Linked DNA regions of Homo sapiens. The protein of the gene in region 2 purifies or fractionates together with the protein of the main gene of each other region. This does not show direct contact. Each region holds a gene or a part of one and is shown on either strand. Other genes may lie near its edges.

The links. Proteins that work in one complex are often made in the same cells at the same time.
Region 1: the proteins of GNS (region 2) and POC5 purify together in Homo sapiens (co-immunoprecipitation; one large-scale study listed by IntAct). This does not show direct contact.

The regions. Positions count from the first base shown.
Region 1 is NC_000005.10:75,686,438-75,689,937, forward strand, and holds part of POC5 (centrosomal protein POC5), read right to left. Parts: intron 2,729-3,500; coding exon 2,575-2,728; intron 892-2,574; coding exon of another isoform or gene 773-891; exon of another isoform or gene 511-772; intron 1-510. UniProt on the Homo sapiens protein: Essential for the assembly of the distal half of centrioles, required for centriole elongation. Acts as a negative regulator of centriole elongation.
Region 2 is NC_000012.12:64,738,907-64,742,406, forward strand, and holds part of GNS (N-acetylglucosamine-6-sulfatase precursor), read right to left. Parts: intron 1,783-3,500; coding exon 1,700-1,782; intron 594-1,699; coding exon 475-593; intron 1-474. UniProt on the Homo sapiens protein: Hydrolyzes 6-sulfate groups in N-acetyl-d-glucosaminide units of heparin sulfate and keratan sulfate.

The sequences.
Region 1 (3,500 bases), on a different chromosome or scaffold from region 2:
TCTGTATAGAAAATTTGCAGAGTATTAGTTAGTTAGCTTATTTAAGAAGTTTAACAATGATTACAGTGCCTACCTAGATCCTTTGAACTCCTCTGATGAAAGGGACTAATTCAATATAAAATACTTTTAATTTGAAAACAAAACACACACTGAGTTTTAACTTGTTTTGGTAGAGATTCTGAGTGTCTATCTTTAGATGGTGGCAGACATTAGGAGATGTAGAAACAGTATGAAGGTCAGGGAAGAGAGGCAGGTGATCAACTCTTGCTAATATAGGCTGATATCAGATAACTCTTAAGTTTAATAATTAATCTCATTTTAGCTGGAATAAATTTTTCACTTGTCAAGTATTTTTTTTTACTGTGCCTAATTGGCACAGTAAAATTGGCAGATATAATTTTAAGGACTTTTTGTCATGTTCTAACTTCTTCATAAAAACCTCTAATTTGTAAGATTTAAGATACTGCACAACATGAGAGGTACTGCAAATTACAGACAGCAAAGAATCGGTACAAATAAAAAACCAAATATTTATTTTGCTCTAACAAGACAGATGCATTAGGAACTTTACATTATTAAAAACTGCATTATAAAAAACAATTTTTTTTTTTGTGAGATAGTCTCGCTCTGTCGCCCAGGCTGAAGTGCAGTGGCATGATCTCAGCTCACTGCAACCTCTGCCTCCTGGGTTCACGCCATTCTTCTGCCTCAGCCTCCTGAGTAGCTGGGACTACAGGTGCCTGCCACCACGCCCGGCTAATTTTTTGTATTTTTAGTAGAGACGGGATTTCACCATGTTAGCCAGGATCGTCTCGATCTCCTGACCTCGTGATCCACTCACCTCGGCCTCCCAAAGTGCTGGGATTACAGGTGTGAGCGACCGCGCCTGGCCTATAAAAAACAGTTGTTTTAATAGAAGGGGGCCAAAAGTAATTTTTTTTTCTTATGAGAACTAAAAAAAATAGGTGTCATTAAAATGTCATAAAACCTAAATATCACAAAGCAGATCCACTGAATTATACTGAACTTTTTTGCCTTTGGTAGCTCTACCAACATTATTGCTAATGCATGCTTTACCATTCTTGTCATCTTTCTCATCGATTGTTTCAAAAGTAACAGGAGCAAAAGAAATCATGTTGTGTAATTAGCAGAAGACATTTTCTTCAAATCCTCTTATGGATATTGGCCTTTAGGAGACACAGTTGCATTTCAATTTACATTTTAAGATGGTAAATGTATTAAGGTGGGAAATACTCCTAAGTCAATTCAAAATCTTTTTAAGTAGGTTATAAGAAACAGGTTTCTTGTAATTTAATGTAAGAAGTTCTAATAGGAATTTGTCACTTTACTTGTGAAACTCATATTTCTCCCAAGTAAACAATTAAATTTCTCAATTTGTGACACACAACTTGCTGATACTTAGAACTGAAACAGACTATTCTATCATTGAAGGTGGTGAGTTTGTTTTCAACCCTGATACTCAAATAAAAGACCATTTATTGGAAAAATCAAGTACTCACCTAGGTATTACCAAAATAAACTATTCAGCCTTGAGATTCCATGATTCTCAGTTTCTAAATTAAATATGGCCCACAAACCACAACCACTTCAGATAGAAAGCAATTTGCCTAAACTTACTCCTATCCACAATATGCATGCTTTAAATAATAAATGTTTGTTGATGTTTTAAAATAAGGGCATCACAAGCACAGAGAAGTTATTCATTGGATTGAAATCATGTTAATCATTTACAAAATCTTGAGACGTTGACTTGAATTAAAACTATTAATAATTACATCATGACTATCATCTTACACGTTAAAGTGCATTTTGTCTTTTAAAGTGTTTTCAGATATGTTTTACTGCATCCCACAAGAAGCCCCTAGGAAGCAGGTAAGGAAGGTTTATATTATCTCCTTCGCTCAGAGAAGAAATCTAAGGCCGAATGAGGAAAACAGGCCCCTGGGTAAATTGGTGGCAAAGGATTCTAGTTATGGGCTTTTCTACGCCATGCTGACAAAACTACTACACAAACCACTCTTATGTCAGACAATATGTGGATTTTTAAAAAAAATAAAATTACTTCTATAGATAGGTCTATATTTATGTTTGCTGCAATGAGCTTAGTTGAGGCCTTTCATAAACAGGAAGATTAGGAATTTCTAAAATGAGAAACCATGACTAGATAACAAATACTTACCAAAATAGTCCAAAATATTTGGCTACTTAAGAAAAGACAAAATTAGAAGTTTTGTACTTAAAAAGGCATTAAAATTCTTAGTTAAAAGAGATTTAAAATAATGCTATACATTAAAATATTATTTTCAACATTTAGCTTAAATACTTAGGAGTGACAGTGTACTTGATCAGATCTAAGATACCATAAGTAACCATGACTGAGCTCATTTTCATGGCAGATTTAAGTCTGGATATGACACCATAGAATTAAGAATAGCAGCACCTGGATGAAACATACCTACTGCAGATTATTTGTACTGTAGACCATACCAATCACCAAAATCTCCTCAAATCTTTTTTTGAAATTAGGCAGAGAAACTTTAATGAAATACTAACCTGCATCATTTCTGTTTTGAAATATAGTCATGGCTTCAAGATTTAATGCACATACACCCCTCATGAAAGCTTTTTTCATGGAATCTTCAAAGTGCTCTTTTTCATGTTGCATTCTTTGAATCTCAGCTTTTGCATTTTCCAAAGCTCCAGATAACTAAAATAAGAATGTTTAAAAAGCAAAACAATTTGAGATACAAAGAAGAATACTGTCAAAAAAATAGATATATACTTTGAGATTATTCTCATGTGAAATATTAAAAAGTTTGTCACTTACCTCTTCTGCTATGTGCAATTTATTTTAAAAGGTACCTCTTACCTCTATTATCTCCATCAACAAAATGCTTTCATTCCTAACCTTAAAATCAAGGTTCAAACAAGGGGAATTTTATCCAGTCCCATTGAATATTGCTGATGTATTTTCATTTCACAAAAAGATACACCATTTTTTACTGTAAAACTTTTATGTAGGATGTTAAACAAAATACATTAAGAGCCACAGACAGCCCTTTCAGAAAAAAATAAAATAAACTACATGCCTGCAATATTAACAGAATTTTTATAATGTAAATGTTACCTTCAGTATTTGAAGTGCAGAGTGACCCTAGGTACAACACACTTTCCCATAGGCCAAACCTCAGGGGACTGCATTTTTTGCATGTCGTAGTGAACTGCAGAAAATTATTTGTATTATGGATTTATTTTTAATCTTAACAATTTAATGCTGTAATGAGTTATTTTTTCATTTTAATATTTAACTTCAAGAGGCCTATTGCATTCTTTAGAATGGATTTTATTTCATTTCAATTCCAAATGTTTTCCCATGAAAACAATGTTAATTTTATTATTAAAAGTCAATGGGAAAAAATAATTTCAATTTCTTTTTTTCTTTTTTGAGATGGATTTCTGCTCTTGTTGCCTAGGTTGGA
Region 2 (3,500 bases):
GACATTTATATATGTGGAAAGAAGAAAACATTTGCTTTTAACAACAGAAGGTCCAAGCAGAAAGCATGAAAGTCAAGGACACAGAGCTGACTCATCCTGCAGCTTTTGAAAAAAACAAAAACACCCAAAAAACAAATTCCATGAATGGCAAGAAAGTTTTCCCAAGACAACCTCCTTTTGGTCTTCCTATCTCAAATGCCTTCCATACGGCCTGCCTCCAACCCATCAAGCTCATGCTCTGCTCCCACTCCTAGAACACCATGTCATCTTGCATGTGAAACAGCAAATAATGAAACCTGGTTTCTCCACGTGGGTATGATGTGGTGCTCCAACTGGAGGGGTCCTGAGGGCAAGATCCTCCCTCTGGCATGTCCACAGTTATAAAAAGACTAGAACTCCCTCCCAGGGCTCATTGGGTGAAAAAGGAAAGACATATTCTCAAAGATCACAGCAGTACCTACTCCTGCCTCTGACCTGTGTGATAGCCATTGTCTGAGGTATAGAAGATGTAAGTGTTGTTGAGCTCCCCAGTGAACTCCAGCCTCTTGACCAGTTTCTCCACAAGGTCATCAACTGAGAGGAGAGTTTGCCACCTGGATGTGAACAGAAGGTAGAAATGGGACTTCAGGGGCAATGGCTGAGGTATCACTATCTTGCCAAAAAAAAAAAAAACCAAAAACAAAAACAAAGACACCCCCGTTTAAAAAAAAAAATCCAAAACAACCCCCGTTTAAAAAAAAAAAATTGCAAAACACTCTCCCCCAAAACTCAAATCCCCAATCTCCATTCCCTAGACCTTCCCATTGTAAAAAACAGATTAGAAAATTCCAGAACATAATTAATTCATTCCAAAGTTAATTGTTTCCAAAGAAATAAACTCGTTTTTAAATAACCAGTTAGCTTTACTTTTTATTGGCAATAGTGATGAGAGTAGAGACAATCGGAAGGAAGAGTTGTCCATTCTCAGTACTGTGTATTACAGATTAATTCAGATAGGACTGTGCTACAAAAAAGCTTAAGATGTTTGAACTAGGAGCTGGCAAGCTATGACTCATGGGCCAAAGCTTGCCCACTGTCTGTTTTTATAAAGTTTTATTGGACCACAACCATGCTCATTCATTTACATGTTACCCAGGGCTGCTTTTGTGCTACAACAGCAGAGCTGAGTAGTTGTGACAGAATGTATGACCTGCAAGCCTATTAATATTTACTATCTGCCCCTTTACAGAAAAAGTTTGCTTATCCCTGGTCTACACTAAACACTTCCTAAGAGAAAGTAATGGATTTTTAAAAATTGACTTAAGAGAATTTCTTGAAAATTCCAAATGGCAAAGGCAGATATTTTGATCTTGTCTAAGCTTTTGGGTCATTTGTCACATATGACAATGGGCTCTCTCAACCAAGTCACCTTTTCTTTAAAGCAGGAGAAAAAATTCTACCACATGGTTCAAGTTTGCAAGACTTTTGCCAAGTCCTAAAAATGGGCAGTCTAATTAGTACTGGGGTCCAAATGCCACCTCATTCATTTGAGTGTAAAGGAATCTCTCTGCTTCTGGTGCCCCATCGAAGCCTCTCTCCCACTGACTTGCTTCCCTCTGTTTTTGTTTCAGAGACAACAATGTGGTGTGGTCTCCTCTTCATGAGCTGATTTGCAGGGTCTTTAAAACCACTCAGATTGTTATGTAGCAGCAGCTCTTACCTTTTCCTAAATGCATTATCTAAAAACTGTATTGAAGAATTAGTCATTGGAGTCTTGGCTTGCCTAATTAACCAGTGCTTGTTCTAAAATTTAGAAGAAAAAAAATGTTAACACCAAGTCACCACAGTCAAACAAACTACTGGATTACTACAGTAGATAATAAATAGAACCGTTTCACTCATACTTCAGCAAGAAGGAACTAACTGGAACTTGTTTAAGCAATTTCAGAACTTCTCTCCCTTCCTGTGTTCCTAAAATAGAAATTTCTGTAGATTAACTCAATCTCTCATTCTTCAGCTTCCCAGCACCTCCCAAACCATAAAAGGTCTTGGCTTCTCTGTTGGCAGTATTAAGAGATTTTAGAGGATGTCACTGGGAAACTACTAGCTAAAGCGAGATTACATTTACAACTCTGATCTTATGCCTTTGGTCTACTACAATTAGAAAATGGGCAAATAGGGCGTAGTGGCGGGCGCCTGTAGTCCCAGCTACTTGGGAGGCTGAGGCAGGAGAATGGCGTGAACCCGGGAGGCGGAGCTTGCAGTGAGCCGAGATCCCGCCACTGCACTCCAGCCTGGGCGACAGAGCGAGACTCCGTCTCAAAAAAAAAAAAAAAAAAGAAAATGGGCAAATAACTTTACCTTCCTCTAAGTTGCTTTTTTTGAGACAGAGGCGGAGGTTGCATTGAGCCGAGATCGCACTACTACACTCCAGCCCAAGCCCAAGCTGGAGTACAGTGGCACGATCTCGGCTCACTGCAACCTGTGCCTCCCGGGTTCATGCGATTTTCATGCCTCAGCCACCTGAGTAGCTGGGATTACAGGCGTGCACCAACATGCCTGTCTAATTTTTGTATTTTCAGTAGAGATGGGGTTTCATCATGTTCGCCAGGCTGGTCTTGAACTCCTGGCCTCAGGTGATCCTCTTGCCTTAGCCTCCCAAAGTGCTGGGATTACAAGCATAAGCCACCATACCTGGTCTACCTTCCTCTAAGTTTTGCCTAGCCAAGATATCGGTCACCCTAGATCCTAAGGAAAAATCTTATTACAGCAATTTCCTAAAACTTCAAGTCTAAATCTGGAGGGCCCTCCCATTTAAACAAAGACATCCCTATATACTATTCTCTCTTCTCTATTCGTAAAACCCTAAGCCACCAGATCTCAAACTATGCTCCTCAAAGTGTTATTAAGTTTGAGAAATGCTGTATAGCATATTCTCCTGCTAGAAATTCACATTCGATCATGAATAACTCTGAGAAGTCCTGTAGCAGAGTGACTTATTTAACTCAAACTTTCCAAACTTACTTGACCATGGGAACTTTTTATTAACTTCTTTTGGAACACAGATTGAGAATCGTCCTATTTTACTATTTTTTAATTTATTTTATTTTATTTTATCTTATCTTGTCTCATCTCATCTTATTTTATTTTATTTTGATGGAATCTTGCACTGTTTCCCAGGCTGGAGTGCAGTGGTGCGATCTCGGCTCACGGCAAGCTCCGCCTCCCGGGTTCACGCCATTCTCCTGCCTCAGCCTCCCGAGTAGCTGGGAGTACAGGTGTCCACCACCACGCCCGGCTAATTTTTTGTACTTTTAGTAGAGATGGGGTTTCACTGTGTTAGCCAGGATGGTCTCAATCTCCTGACCTCGTGATTCGCCCGCCTTGGCCTCCCAAAGTGCTGGGATTACAGGCATGAGCCACTGCGCCCGGCCAGTACTCTAATTTAAAACACAGTTCACTCAGCTTTGAAACTGTATTTAACAAGCACATGCCTATAATGTGCCAGACAATATGCTAAT